Homo sapiens: one gene and its partners. The protein of the gene in region 2 interacts with the protein of the main gene of each other region in a pairwise test. Each region holds a gene or a part of one and is shown on either strand. Other genes may lie near its edges.

Region 1 (2,460 bases), on a different chromosome or scaffold from region 2:
GAGGGAAGGGGGACTGAATCTGCCTGTAGCCAGGCTGCAGGCCGTCCATGAAAGGTGGCACAGCTGTCATGGGCACAGAGTCGTGCTGCACCGTGTACCCCACGTATGGGGGATGCAGATACTGCCCTTGATGTGGCACAATCTGGGTGGCCTGCTGACAGTTCAGCACAGAGAAATTCGTGGGCATGTTGACATACACGTTGTTCATGGTCCCTTCCGGCAAGCAACAGTTGGTCTGTGACCTTGTTGGGGGCGCCCGGGCCCCTGAGTTGGCGCTGGAGCTGGAACTGGCAGCTGTGCTGGACTGGCGTGAGGACGACCCCCGGGAGGTGCTGGCACTGGGGATCATGGGGATGGTCTCCATCAAGCGGTTACCCCCTGGGGCTCGGCTCTGCTGGGGATCCTGCTTAGGCCGGAGACATCTGCAGCAACAGGCTGCCACCAGGGACCCCAAGATGATAAAGGCGACAAACACGGAGCCAACAATGAGGAACGGCACGTAGATGGGCACTGAAGCAAAGGACAGAAACACAACATTATGATCTACTCTAGGAACACAGTACCAATCGCCAACTGGCAATGGCAATGAATGAATGAGCAACACTGATACCCACAGCTGAAGGACCTACACTGGGCTAATTTGTTCACATATTAGGAGTCCATAAGATGCACCATTCTTTATCAAGTGCTTAGAAAGGTCCTAAGACCCTACAGGCATGGCAGGTCAGCCCCTAGAAGCAAACTGTTAATATTTAGTTCAACTTGTCAACTGCAAGACTGACTGAGCCAGATATCCGATTTAGCAAAAGTATGGGTTTAACAGGTTAAGACAGTTATGGTTCTAAACTTCCTACCATAATCAAACTGTCCAAACTTAAGTCTGCCCGACCATATTGTTGTAGGATCTTCATAGTAATAATGACTTCAACTTATTTAAAAGTCTTTTTTCCCCCAGAAAGTTATTTAAGTTCCTTGCAAATTTCTTTTTACCATTTTTTAGCAAGTTCTTTTTTCATAAGCAGTTAAGTCAAAAATTTAGGCCAGACTCTAAGTCACTACCATTTCCAAAAGGCAGATGTACAAGAGGTAAGGCACAGAAGGGTCAAGGAGGGGTTTAAAAAAGACCCTCTTCACTCTTCCTTAGCAAAAGCCAGGGTCCTTGGGTGGCATTGGGTCCAGGTGATGGGGTCTGTGTGGAGGTGGAGGGAAGTTATTCCAGGCATTGGGCCATCCTGAAACAATGTCCAAGAGCAAACATCAGGAGCAACAAGACGTGTTCCAGAAAGAAGAGTCACCCACAGCAAGCCAAGAAGGCAAGAGTACACAGGGAAAGCCCTCAGAGCATAAAGCAACGGCCATCACACTTCACCCGGGAAGCTGATTTTAAAATAGAAAACCATAAAAAGTAAAAATAAAAACCTTTTGATAAAACCACTAGCAAACTCCATTTTAAAATTAGTTTCTGGCGGGGCACGGTGGCTCACGCCTGTAATCCAAGCACTTTGGGAGGCCAAGGTGGGTGGATCACCTGAGCTCAGGACTTCAAGACCAGCCTGGCCAACATGGTGAGACCCTGTCTCTACTAAAACCACAAAATTTAGCTGAGTGTGGTGACGCGCACCTATAATCCCAGCTACTCTGGAGGCTGAGGCAGGAGAATCGCTTGAACCCAGGAGGCAGAAGTTGCAGTAAGCCGAGATTGTGCCACTGTACTCCAGCCTGGGCAACAGATTGAGATTCCATCTCAAATAAATAAATAAATACATAAAATTAGTTTCTTAAAAAAATCTTTTAGGAGCCATAGAGAGGGCACTACAAGGCTTTAGAAAATAGACGCAGGTTGACAGGGACAGAATCAGATGGGAGGTGCCTGCAGAATGCCTCTGAGCCACTTTTGTGGAATTCTACCCTATGTTACCAAGAGCCTGCATTTTCTGATGTGTTCTTGCCCCAACCTCCTGGCTATATTTTTGGGAAATACATAAGCACAGGGGTGGATTGGGTCTTACTGGTCTTGGCAAAGCATAATGCCAGCCCAGAGTCGGATGGGGCAGCATTTTAGGAAGGAGACCACGCCTTTGAGGTCAGCTCTATGAATACCCTTTCATCATCCATTAGAGCAGCCGGGCTTTCTAATTATGCTCCTTTTCACTGTTCTGGTATTGCTGGAGTCAGTGTTTTTAAAGTATAATACCAGGTGGAATTATGGAGAAATAATGCCCTGTAAGTAAAACAATACTTTATAGGTATTTAACCAAAGGCTGACTGTGGAATATTTCCTGGAGTTTCAATGCTGAACAGAGCAATTTCTATATATAGCGCCCCTTTAGCAGGTAGAAACATTTGCTACAGTGTCTGCAGCACAGCTGGCGCCCAGCAGTAGAACTGTCCTAATTACACTATCACTTCAGGCTAACTACGGATCACTGGAGAAGTGGATGCAGGCTTTTTCCTTGGCGT
Region 2 (3,872 bases):
TTTCACTATATAGAGGCTGAGTTAAAATGTATTATTTCATGGGTCAAAGATGTTAATTTTCATAACCTGGTTAGGGAGCAAAGTCTTAAAAAAAAAAACAAAACACGAGCAGACCTGAGGGTTTTGGCACCTAGGTCCTTGAGGTACTGATGAGATGAGGCAAAGGAGGAAGAGAGTTTTTAGCCAGGCTTGGGATAGCAGTAGGTGAGATCATAACCCAAATTAGGCTACAGAAAGGAAGCAAGGATGAGGTCATATGTTCAGGAAAGAAGGTGGCACATTCATGTTTGGTAGCAAAAGGAGAAACTTAAGAAAAAGAGCCAGCAGGAGGCTGGGCGCTGTGGCTCACACCCGTAATCCCAGCACTTTGGGAGGCTGAGGTGGGCGGATCACCCAAGGGCAGGCGTTCGAGACTAGCCTGGCCAACATGGTGAAACCCCATCTCTACTAAAAATACAAAGTTAGCCAGGCGTGGTGGTGCATGCCTGTAGTCCCAGCTGCTTGGGAGGCTGAGGCAGGAGAATTGCTTGAACCCGGGAGGCGAGGTTGCGGTGAGCTGAGATTGCACCATGTACTGTGGCCAGGGCAACAAGAGCAAAACTCCATGTGTTTTAAAAAAAAAAAAAAAAAAAAAAAAAAGCAAAAGAGCCAGCAGGAAAGACCATGTGTTCAAAGCCCCCTTTGGGAAGAAGGCAGAAAAGAGACAAGGTGCTTATGAGACACATGACTAACCGTGAAGCTGTTGGTCTCCCTGGGCTTGTGGAGCCCACAGGTTATTTGTGCATTGGTGAATGCGTGTCCCTGTAGCTCTTTGTGCCTTGTGATTTCCCCGACTGTTTCTCTCATGTCCCAGGCTGGATGAGTTGGGGGTAGCCTCCTTGTCTGCCCCTTTCTCTTTCCTCCTTATTTTCTAACAGTCCCCTTTGTTACATCTTCCTCCATGGCACAGTTCTTTCTATTTCCTTTGTCTTGGCTCATCCCTAGGTTACTTTTCTTTGCCTCTGATTTGTTCCCTAATAGATGTGGGCGCCCCAGCCAGAAGCAGAGAGGGGTACAGGGAAGCTACAGAGAAGCCCCTTCTGATGCCCCAGGGAGCAAGTCGACTCCTTCCAGGCTCCAGGAACACCACAAAGCAATATGAAACCTGTTCATGAAAGGAGTCAGGAATGCCTTCCACCAAAGAAACGAGACCTCCCCGTGACCAGCGAGGATATGGGGAGAACTACCAGCTGCTCCACTAACCACACACCCTCCAGTGATGCTTCTGAATGGTCCCGAGGGGTTGTGGTGGCTGGGCAGAGCCAGGCAGGAGCCAGAGTCAGCCTGGGGGGTGATGGAGCTGAGGCCATCACCGGTCTGACAGTGGACCAGTATGGCATGCTGTATAAGGTGGCTGTGCCGCCTGCCACCTTTTCACCAACTGGACTCCCATCTGTGGTGAATATGAGTCCCTTGCCCCCAACGTTTAATGTAGCGTCTTCACTAATTCAACATCCAGGCATCCACTATCCTCCACTCCACTATGCTCAGCTCCCATCCACCTCGCTGCAGTTCATTGGGTCTCCTTATAGCCTTCCCTATGCTGTGCCACCTAATTTCCTACCGAGTCCCCTCCTATCTCCTTCTGCCAACCTTGCCACCTCTCACCTTCCACACTTTGTGCCATATGCCTCACTTCTGGCTGAAGGAGCCACTCCTCCCCCACAGGCTCCCTCCCCGGCCCACTCATTTAACAAAGCTCCCTCTGCCACCTCCCCATCTGGGCAATTGCCACATCATTCAAGTACTCAGCCGCTGGACCTTGCTCCAGGTCGGATGCCCATTTATTATCAGATGTCCAGGCTACCTGCTGGGTATACTTTGCATGAAACCCCTCCAGCAGGTGCCAGCCCAGTTCTTACCCCTCAGGAGAGCCAGTCTGCTCTGGAAGCAGCTGCTGCAAATGGAGGACAGAGACCACGAGAGCGAAATTTAGTAAGACGGGAAAGTGAAGCCCTTGACTCCCCCAACAGCAAGGGTGAAGGCCAGGGACTGGTGCCAGTGGTAGAATGTGTGGTGGATGGACAGTTGTTTTCAGGTTCTCAGACTCCACGGGTAGAGGTAGCAGCACCAGCACACCGGGGGACCCCGGACACTGACCTTGAGGTCCAGCGGGTGGTTGGCGCTTTAGCTTCTCAGGACTATCGTGTGGTGGCAGCTCAGAGGAAGGAGGAACCCAGCCCCCTCAACCTATCCCATCATACCCCCGACCATCAGGGTGAGGGGCGAGGGTCAGCCAGGAACCCTGCAGAGCTGGCAGAGAAAAGTCAGGCCCGTGGGTTCTACCCTCAGTCCCATCAGGAACCAGTAAAACATAGACCTTTACCCAAAGCAATGGTTGTAGCCAATGGCAACCTGGTGCCCACTGGAACTGACTCAGGCCTGCTGCCTGTGGGCTCGGAGATCCTGGTAGCATCAAGTCTGGACGTGCAGGCCAGAGCCACCTTCCCAGACAAGGAGCCAACGCCGCCCCCCATTACCTCCTCTCACTTGCCTTCCCATTTCATGAAAGGCGCCATCATCCAGCTGGCTACGGGAGAGCTGAAGCGGGTGGAGGACCTCCAGACCCAGGATTTTGTGCGCAGTGCCGAAGTGAGCGGGGGGCTGAAGATTGACTCTAGCACGGTCGTGGACATTCAGGAGAGCCAATGGCCTGGATTTGTCATGCTGCATTTTGTGGTTGGTGAGCAGCAGAGCAAAGTGAGCATCGAAGTGCCCCCCGAGCACCCCTTCTTTGTATATGGCCAGGGTTGGTCCTCTTGCAGCCCTGGGCGGACGACACAACTCTTCTCTCTGCCCTGCCATCGGCTACAGGTGGGAGATGTCTGCATCTCTATCAGTTTACAGAGCTTGAACAGTAACTCAGTTTCTCAGGCCAGCTGTGCTCCCCCAAGCCAGCTGGGTCCCCCCCGAGAAAGGCCTGAGAGGACGGTCTTGGGATCCAGAGAGCTATGTGACAGTGAGGGGAAGAGCCAGCCGGCAGGAGAGGGCTCCCGTGTGGTAGAGCCTTCCCAGCCTGAGTCCGGTGCTCAGGCCTGCTGGCCAGCCCCGAGCTTCCAAAGATACAGCATGCAAGGGGAGGAGGCACGGGCTGCGCTGCTCCGTCCCTCTTTCATTCCACAGGAGGTAAAGCTGTCCATTGAAGGGCGTTCCAATGCGGGAAAATGAACCTCTTCCCCAGACCAGGACTGGGGCTTTACCCCAGAGCCTCGCCTCGCCGCCGTGAGCAGGCAGAGGATTTGCACACGCCGAGCAGGGAATGGCTTTCTTGGCAGTGAGATTTGGGGGAAAGGGGAGGCATGAAGTCAGCCTCCCAAGGCAGGATCTGTTGTTCATTACCCCATGGCATCCTTTCAGGACAACCCCAGAGGGTGTTGTGATGGGGAGCAGCAGGCCTGGGGCAAGGAAGGAAGGGGGTGCACACAGGAGAAGAAACATTCCAAAATCAGGGCCTCCCTGTTCTTTCCTCCCCATCCCTAGCTCCTGCAAGAGAAAGTCCAGGCTTTGGGAGCAGATGGCAGAGGGAGGGAGTAAAGAAAGAGCCAAAAATGATGATCCACAGCTTATAGTAGCAGTTAAACTGTCAGAAGTTTTTTTTCTTTTTTGTGGTAGAAGGGCAGGAGGCCCCAAGGTTGGAAATAAGAGGGTTCCCACCCAGAACCCTTCTTGTGAGAGATGCGCACTTTAAAGGGTGATTTTGTTCCAGATGTCTATGGCTGGGTGTGTGGGGGAGGAGCACTCTCATCTGCAGGACTCTGCTTGATCCTCTGCTTCATAGCCCTTCCCCATCTCTCCTCACCATTCTGCCTACAAGGCTTCTAGCAGCACGGGGG
Region 3 (3,500 bases), on a different chromosome or scaffold from region 2:
GCCTCCCGAGTCCCAGATCTGTGTTTTAGTGGCTGTGTGACCTTGGGCAAATCACATCTCTGAGCCTCTTTTTCCTTCTCTAAAAAATTGCATGTGCTCAGGCCTGCAAAGCCTATGAAGGTAGCCACATTATCTTTGTTGCTGTCCACACAACTTTTCTAAATGCCTTCCCCTAATCCCATACCTGCCCCCTGAAGACACAAGGTGTCTATGCACGTCTCTACGTGTGTGTGTTGGTTTGCATCCATGTTAAATACACCTGCATGTGTGTTTACATTTGTGTCTATGCAGCTGTGTATTTCTGTGTACAAATATACAACTGTGAACCCAGGTGTGTTAGTGTTGCTGTGTATCTATGTGCCCATCCATATACCTGTGTCTGTAGCTTACGGAGAGGGGCACTGTGAGGGTGAAAGTGTTAATACATCTAAAGAGCTTAGAACAGTGCCCTGCACATAGTAAGGACTCAATGTTCAGTGTGTTTGTCATCCATCACTGCCTCCTCCCTTAAACAGCTTTCTGGCAGTTCAGCCAGATGGGAAATTGACATTTTACTCACAATTCTGTCTTGAGGTGCTCATGTGTCCACACACAGACGTAAGACACACACACACACACACACACACACACACACACACACACACCCCGCAGAACTGCTGCTGTGGCAGTGGTCAGTTCTAGTCTCAGACTCTGCCTCCACCTGTCAATCCCGAGTTTTCCCTTAAGATGAGGCTCAAAACCCAAAGTACCCCTCAGCCCAGGACATCTTCTCAGAAGATCTGCTGCCCGAGAGGCTGCCTCCATTCTCAGCTCAGCTTGTGCCAATGACCAAAGTGTTGATGATGGCTGACCCTACACCCTTGAGGGTTCCCTCATGGCCTGTGGACTTTCTGATATGGAGTCTGCAAGTAGGTCTCCCTGCTCTCCTCCTGCTCCATCTTCCAGGTCCCCAAGAGTGTACCTCTTCTCAGAGCCCCTCCTTGCTCTCTGCTCCCATGCAGGGGACACTCCTGACATTCCCATGCTCAGGCCCCTCCCACTTTTGTCCACTCCTTCACCTGAAACCACTCACCTGCTCCCCTTTACTCCAAGCTCTACAGCCCAGGGCAGCCTCTCTCTCCTGTTATGACCACTGCCCGGTCCCTGCAACCCCAGCCTCTGCCTGAACCTGGACAGAGCAGTGAGACTGATGGTGTTGCCTTACCTGTTCTCAGCCCTCCATGAGCTCCAAGGCCACTAGGCATGTTGCTAAGTGTCCCTCCTCTGTTTCGCCGCCTCCTCTGATCCCTGTTAGCACTCATCTCTGCTTTCTACAGGCAGTCGTGCGCCTGCCTGTTTCTGTTTCTATGTGTGTGCATCAAACATGCATGGATATCGTTTGTGTGCAATTGTGTGTGTGCACGGCATCATACACAAAGATCTCTGCTGGGAGCATTCCATGTCACCATTTTTGAGACTCATCGTACCCTCTTAGAGGGTGACCAGAGCTATGCCTCCAGACCGCAGAGCCTAAGTTGCAGCAGCTGAGCTTCCCTATGGGAATCTTTCATCTTCCCTCTGCCTCTTTTTCATCATCTTCTCCCTCAGGTACAGCACTGAGCAGTCTCCAGAATGCCCAGCATGGGCCATGCCATCCACCCCTCACAGGAGCCCATACAGTAGGGACAGCAGAGGGCTTAAGCTGGTGGCCCTGGTCCTCCTGGGAGCACCAGGGAGGAAGGTGCCCCTTGCTTTCTACAGCCAACTTCCCCAGCCTCCACCATCCCACACCTGCTTGTGCCAGGCTGCCCTAGGCTCTGTGGATGGCAAACAGCTGCCCACCGCTGCTCAGTCCCAGGGCGGATTCTCAGGAGATGGTGCCACACTCATGAGTTAGAAAACACTGCATGACTTCAACAACATTTCTAGTTGTTAGAATTGCAAGTTTGTAACATCACAGGCAAGGGTAAATAAACATTCACTGTTCTTTGCTTAAGCCATGGTCCCTTCCCACGCACCCTCCCTCCTTCATTGGGAGCAGAGTTCCTTTATGCCAAGTAGCCCAGGAGCCTCTGAAGCTCCTCGGTGTTGGGGACTTTGTCTTTCACATCTCTGAGTCCTCCTACCACAGAGCTCTGAGTAAATTGGATTTGGGACCTTATCTTTATTCCCAGTGCTAAACAGGGAAAAGACCAGGCTAGACTGTTCCCCATTTCTCCTCTCTGTCCCCTCAAGGTCTGTGGAGCTCTCTGACCCCATTTCCTTGGAAGATTGAGGCTGAATAATAATAAAAACCAACATCTGTGTCACAGCTTAAATTTTACAGAGTCTTTACCCTTCCATGGACTCAATTAATCCTTACAACCATATCAGTAGCTACTGCTGCTGCTGCTGCAATTATTATGAACCCATTTCACAAATGAGGAACCATGGCTCTGAGCAGCTAACCAGCCTAAGGCCTAACTTGGAAGCAGCAGAACCTTTAAAGTCAAGTCTACTGGTTTCAAAACCTGCCTGCTATTATCTCAGGCCCCTTGATCAGCTATGTTGAAGCTGGACAGCATTGTGAGATCACAGAAGCTGGGAGAAGGTAAATTATGCTGTCCTTCCTTATTACCTGGGAGGACCAATGCCTTCCACAGCCAACTTCAGCTGGGCCCATTCAGTGCTTAAACTGTCTCAAAGAACCCAGCAGGCCTTACCAGCCAGGGTCCTTCTGCTGCTTCTGCTCAGAAGCCCAGGAACCTCATAGTCAGCCCTATGATGCTAAAGACAGAGGACCGTCATGCTCAGAAAATGATATGTCCAAATCTCACCCACTCCAAAAAGTCAGAAGAAATTAACATAGCAAAGAGATGCTATCCCCACTTAATAAAGCAAACCATTGCAAATTAGTTTTACACGGTGAGCTCTGTGAGGGCATTTTAGAGTGAATCGACTTGTACTAAATGAATTATGCAGTTGTTTCCCCTTTAGAGGTGGAGATGCATAGAGCTGATCTCTGGTTTATTCCTGAACTTGCATTAGACTCCAAGCTTTTCTTAGTCATCATTTTTTTTTTTTAGAGACAGGGTTTCACTATATTGTTCAGGCTAGTCTTGAACACCTGAGCTCAAGCAATTCTCCTATCTCAGCCTCTGGTGTAGGCTGGGACTCCAGGCACATGCCACCACACCTGACTTTAGTCATCTTTGAATCCCTCCACCTAGAACAATGCTCAGCCTCTAGTAGGCTTGTAGGGAGAAATGGTTTTCAAAATTACTTAAATTAATGAGTAAATAAATACATAGAAATGAGTAAATCGTGAGTAGGTGAGTAAATGAATAGTGAATAGGCACACAAAAATGAAAGGGTAGAATCATATTGGTAAAGGAGTCAGCGAATCAATGAACAGGACATTTCAAGACCTGTGTAAGGACAATAGACTACTGATATGAACAGGTCCATGACAATAGACTACTAATATGAAACTGGTCCACTTCAGCTTCCTTCTTAGGTCACCTTTCATCACAACCTCTCAC
Region 4 (4,044 bases), on a different chromosome or scaffold from region 2:
CATATATATAACAAAGTTTATCATTTTAGTCACTTTTAAGTGAATAATTCAGTGGCATTAAGTACATTCACAATGGGCAACCATCACCACCATCCATTCCCAGAACTTTTTTTAATATTCTGAAACAGAAACTTCATATCCATTAAACAGTAACTCCCCATTCCTCTCCTCAGTCTCTGGCAACTATCATTCTACTTTCTGTCTCTATGAATTGTACTTCTCTAGGTACCTCGCAGAAGTGGAATCATGCAGCATTTTTCTTTTTGTGACCGGCTTATTTTGCTTTATTTTGCTTAGCATAATGTCCTCAAGGTTTATCCATGCTGTAGCACGTGTCAGAATTGCCTTCCCTTTTTTTTTTTTTTTTTAATTTTGTTTTGAGACAGAGTGTCGCTCTGTTACACAGGCTGGAGTGCAGTGGTGTGATCTCGGCTCACTGCAACCTCTGCCTCCCGAGTTGAAGCAATTCTTCTGCCTCAGCCTCCCGAGTAGCTGGGACTACAGGCGTGCACCACCACACCCGGCTAATTTTTGTATTTTTAGTAGAGACGGGGTTTCACCATGTTAGTCAGGCTGGTCTGGAACTTCTGACCTCAGGCAAACTGCCTGCCTCGGCCTCCCAAGTTGCTGGGATTACCAGCGTGAGCCACCGTGCCTGGCCTCCCTTTTAAGGCTGAATAATATTCCATTGTACGTAGATACCAAATCCATTCATCTCTGAAGGACATGTAAGTTGTTTCTACCTTTTGACTATTGTGAACCATGCTGTTGTGAACGTTGGTGTACAGGTATCCATTTGAGCCCTTGCTTTCAATTCTTTTTTATTTATAACTAGAAGTGGAATTTCTCCACATCCTCATCAACGCTTGTTTCTGTATTTTTTTTTTATTGTAGCCACACACTATGAATGTCAAAAAGTGACATTTTGACAATTTTGAGCCAGGCTTTCAGGCAGCAGAGGCCTGGGTGGCAGTCTGTGGTGTGAAGTGGATTTAGTCACACACAGTCTGATGTTGTAAACCACATGGGCTCTATTTACCTTCCTCTCCTAGGACTAGGAAGATTCTGTAGAGTATCGGAAAGCATTGGTTCATGTGCTGCCAGGATTCATGTTGGCTCTGGTGAGCCAGGGACAGGGAACTGACCTGCAGGCAGCCCAAGCAGCCACCTACTCACCTCACAATGACAGGGACCCTCATCATACAGGTCAGGGCTCAACTCAAAGACAGGCGTGGCAGTGGGACACAGCAACAGGACTCTCCATGTGGCAAGGGCACCTGGAGGTGGGAGGGCAGGAGCGTCGTCTTGCCCTGGCAGAAGAAGCGGTAGGCTCTGTCTGCGTGGCAGCTGGTCCCCAGCCCTAGGAGAGAAGCTGTCTGTGAGCAAAAGGGAGGGGATACAGGTGTTGGTTGAGGTCTGGGCACCACCCTGCTGGGCCACAGTCTGCTGAAGAGAGTGGGGCTTAGGGGAGGGTTCCCTGGGAATGCAGTGGAGTACCCCTTAAGGATCTAGGGGCCACGCACACAAGGAGTCTGTGCAGCGAGGCCCTCGCTAGGACTTCAGGGCTGGAAGGGAGGGGTCAGTGTTAGGCCTACAAACTACTGTTGTTCAACTGGGAATGCAGAGTCTTGCAACTTTCTTCACCTTGGATACTCCCCTGTGAATCAAGGTGGCTCTGAGTCCTAGGCCTGGGCCTTCCTCTATCCAGGGGAAGTGCTGAGGCCTGGTTCAGAGGAACATGTGAGCTGGAGCCAGTTCATACTGGCTCACAAGAGCCCATCCTGTGCATATCTGTGCAACTCAGTGCCAATGACATTATGTTGATAGCCTGAAATGAGCCATGATAGGAGCATTTACACCACAGAAATTGGCAGATGCTATAAACCCAGGGCCTATTTTCCCTGAAAACATGGTTGTTAAACATTTACCAGCACTTCACTTGCCCTAGGATCAGCTATACCTCTCAAACAGTAAACCTGATCAGTAAATGTGATCTTCTAAACAGCCCTCATTCCTCCTGAGTCCTGCTCCAGCCCCTTTGTCCCAGGGACCCTGGTATCACCACCAACCCCTTGATGATGGAGTGACATGCAGGGTAGGAGCCCAGGGAAGATGGGGAGGAGTGGGCTAAGAAAGCTGGGGCAGCCATGCTTGGTTGGCACAGCTTGAAGATAGTGGCTACTTTCCTTGTCTGTGGCAGAGCAGGGCTAAACAACTTGTCTGTGTCTAGGTCGTTTGCCATGGCAGGTGTGAAATACCCGGGACAGGTGAGTGATGTGGGTTTCTGTCCCCTGTGACGGTCTCAGGGTTGGGTAGCCTCAGCAAGGCCCTGGAAGGGCCAGGCTCTTTCTAGAAGCTCATCTTTCTGTAATGATAGTTTTGGGTTTTGTGGGTTTTTTTTTTTTTTGGTACAAGAAGAAGAAGAGAACTGAGTTTTCTTCTTTATAATTTTCTGGGGGTTCAGTTATTTACTCAGCATGCACTTATTAGGCACCCACAGTGTGCCAGGCCCTGTCCTGGGCTTTGGGACTGCAGAGATGTCTAAGTACACTAAACCTGCTCTAGTGTACTTCATTAAATCCATCACAGTACACCCTGCAAGTGCTGTTGTGGAGGGTTGTAAGGAACAAGGAAAGGGTTTAACTCTTGGGAGGTGGAGAATAAAAGGGTGGGAGAGATGTTTTGGGGAAGTGACATTTAGTCTGGGTCTTGGAGGATAGGTAGGAGTTTGCTAGTCTGTGAGGAGGGCAACTTGCATTTCCATCAGGAGATAGGAAAGAGCACATGCCAGGCCCATGCAAGTGGGAGGAAGTAAGGCTGGAGTAGAGAAGGCAGGAAGGTGGCGGGATGGTAAAAATGGGTCACAGCCAGATCATTTGGGCTCTGAATGTCAGGCCCCAAAGTCGGCCTTTGTCCTACAAACAGCAAGAAGCCATTGAATGGCTTTAAGTGGAGGAGTGACGAGGGAATCTCTTGTTTTATATTCTCCTTGTGCTTTAGGACCCTGTGGATTTAGACATATACCAAAGCTCCCACATGGTCGACTATCAGCCCTACAGGAAGCACAAATACTCCAGGGTCACGCCGCAAGAGGTAGGAAGGCACGCAAGTCCTGTCATTCAATCAACTGCCTACTGAAATCCTCTCTGTTGCTTCATTTGTATTACAAATGTGGACATTTGGGCCCTTGTTAGAACAATATCCAATGCCAGGAGATATGACTTAGAGATCTTTTCTGTGCATGTGCATGTATGTGTGTGTATTTTTTTTTTCTTTTTGAGAAGGAGTCTTACTCTGTCACCCAGGCTGGAGTGCAGTGGCGCGATCTCGGCTCACTACAACCTCTGCCGCCTGCCTGGATTCAAGCGATTCTCCTGCCTCAACTTCCTGAGTAGCTGGGATTACAGGTGCCTGCCACTGCGTCAGCTAATTTTTGTATTTTTAGTAGAGATGGGATTTCACCATCCTGGCCAGGCTGATCTTGAACTCCTGACCTCGTGATCCACCTGCCTCGGCCTCCCAAAGTGCTAGAATTACAGGCGTGAGCCACCGTGGCCGGCCATGTGTGTATGTTTTCAAATGTACATCAAATACGTCATGCATACAAAAAATTGTAAATAATACACATTTAGAGTTAAAATTACACTGATAAACACCGATGTAACCATTACAGACCGCTTAAAACATGGCACATTAACATTAGCAGTACCTTGTAGCCTCTTGGTAACCCGCAAACTTACCCCTCCTCCCATCTCCAGAAGTGGTTAATCATTCCCTTGTAGGCCAGGCACAGTGGCTCACACCTGGAATCCCAGCATTTTGGGAGGCAGAGGCGGCCAGGAGTTGAGACCAGGGGTTTGAGACCAGGAGTTTGAGGCCAGCAGTTCGAGACCAGCCTGGCTGACATGGCGAAATCCCGTCTCTATAAAAAATACAAAAATTAGCCTGGCTTGTTGGTGCACGCTTGTATTTTCAGCTGCGTGGAAGGCTGAGACATGAGAATTGCTTGAACCTGGGAGGTGGGGCGAGACTCTATCCCCCCCA

The links. The genes of interacting proteins can lie anywhere in the genome.
Region 1: the proteins of ATXN1L (region 2) and SHISA2 interact in binary tests that used the Homo sapiens proteins (3 or more experiments, as listed by UniProt).
Region 3: the proteins of ATXN1L (region 2) and C1orf94 interact in binary tests that used the Homo sapiens proteins (3 or more experiments, as listed by UniProt).
Region 4: the proteins of ATXN1L (region 2) and SPMIP9 interact in binary tests that used the Homo sapiens proteins (3 or more experiments, as listed by UniProt).

The regions. Positions count from the first base shown.
Region 1 is NC_000013.11:26,046,557-26,049,016, forward strand, and holds part of SHISA2 (protein shisa-2 homolog precursor), read right to left. Parts: intron 511-2,460; coding exon 1-510. UniProt on the Homo sapiens protein: Plays an essential role in the maturation of presomitic mesoderm cells by individual attenuation of both FGF and WNT signaling.
Region 2 is NC_000016.10:71,848,604-71,852,475, forward strand, and holds part of ATXN1L (ataxin-1-like), read left to right. Parts: intron 1-1,020; 5' UTR 1,021-1,137; coding exon 1,138-3,207; 3' UTR 3,208-3,872. UniProt on the Homo sapiens protein: Chromatin-binding factor that repress Notch signaling in the absence of Notch intracellular domain by acting as a CBF1 corepressor. Binds to the HEY promoter and might assist, along with NCOR2, RBPJ-mediated repression.
Region 3 is NC_000001.11:34,204,407-34,207,906, reverse strand, and holds part of C1orf94 (uncharacterized protein C1orf94), read right to left. Parts: intron 1-3,500.
Region 4 is NC_000002.12:88,523,405-88,527,448, forward strand, and holds the start of SPMIP9 (protein SPMIP9), read left to right. Parts: upstream 1-1,244; 5' UTR 1,245-1,378; exon of another isoform or gene 1,379-1,402; intron 1,403-2,005; exon of another isoform or gene 2,006-2,095; intron 2,096-2,230; 5' UTR 2,231-2,240; coding exon 2,241-2,267; intron 2,268-3,000; coding exon 3,001-3,093; intron 3,094-4,044. UniProt on the Homo sapiens protein: Microtubule inner protein (MIP) part of the dynein-decorated doublet microtubules (DMTs) in flagella axoneme.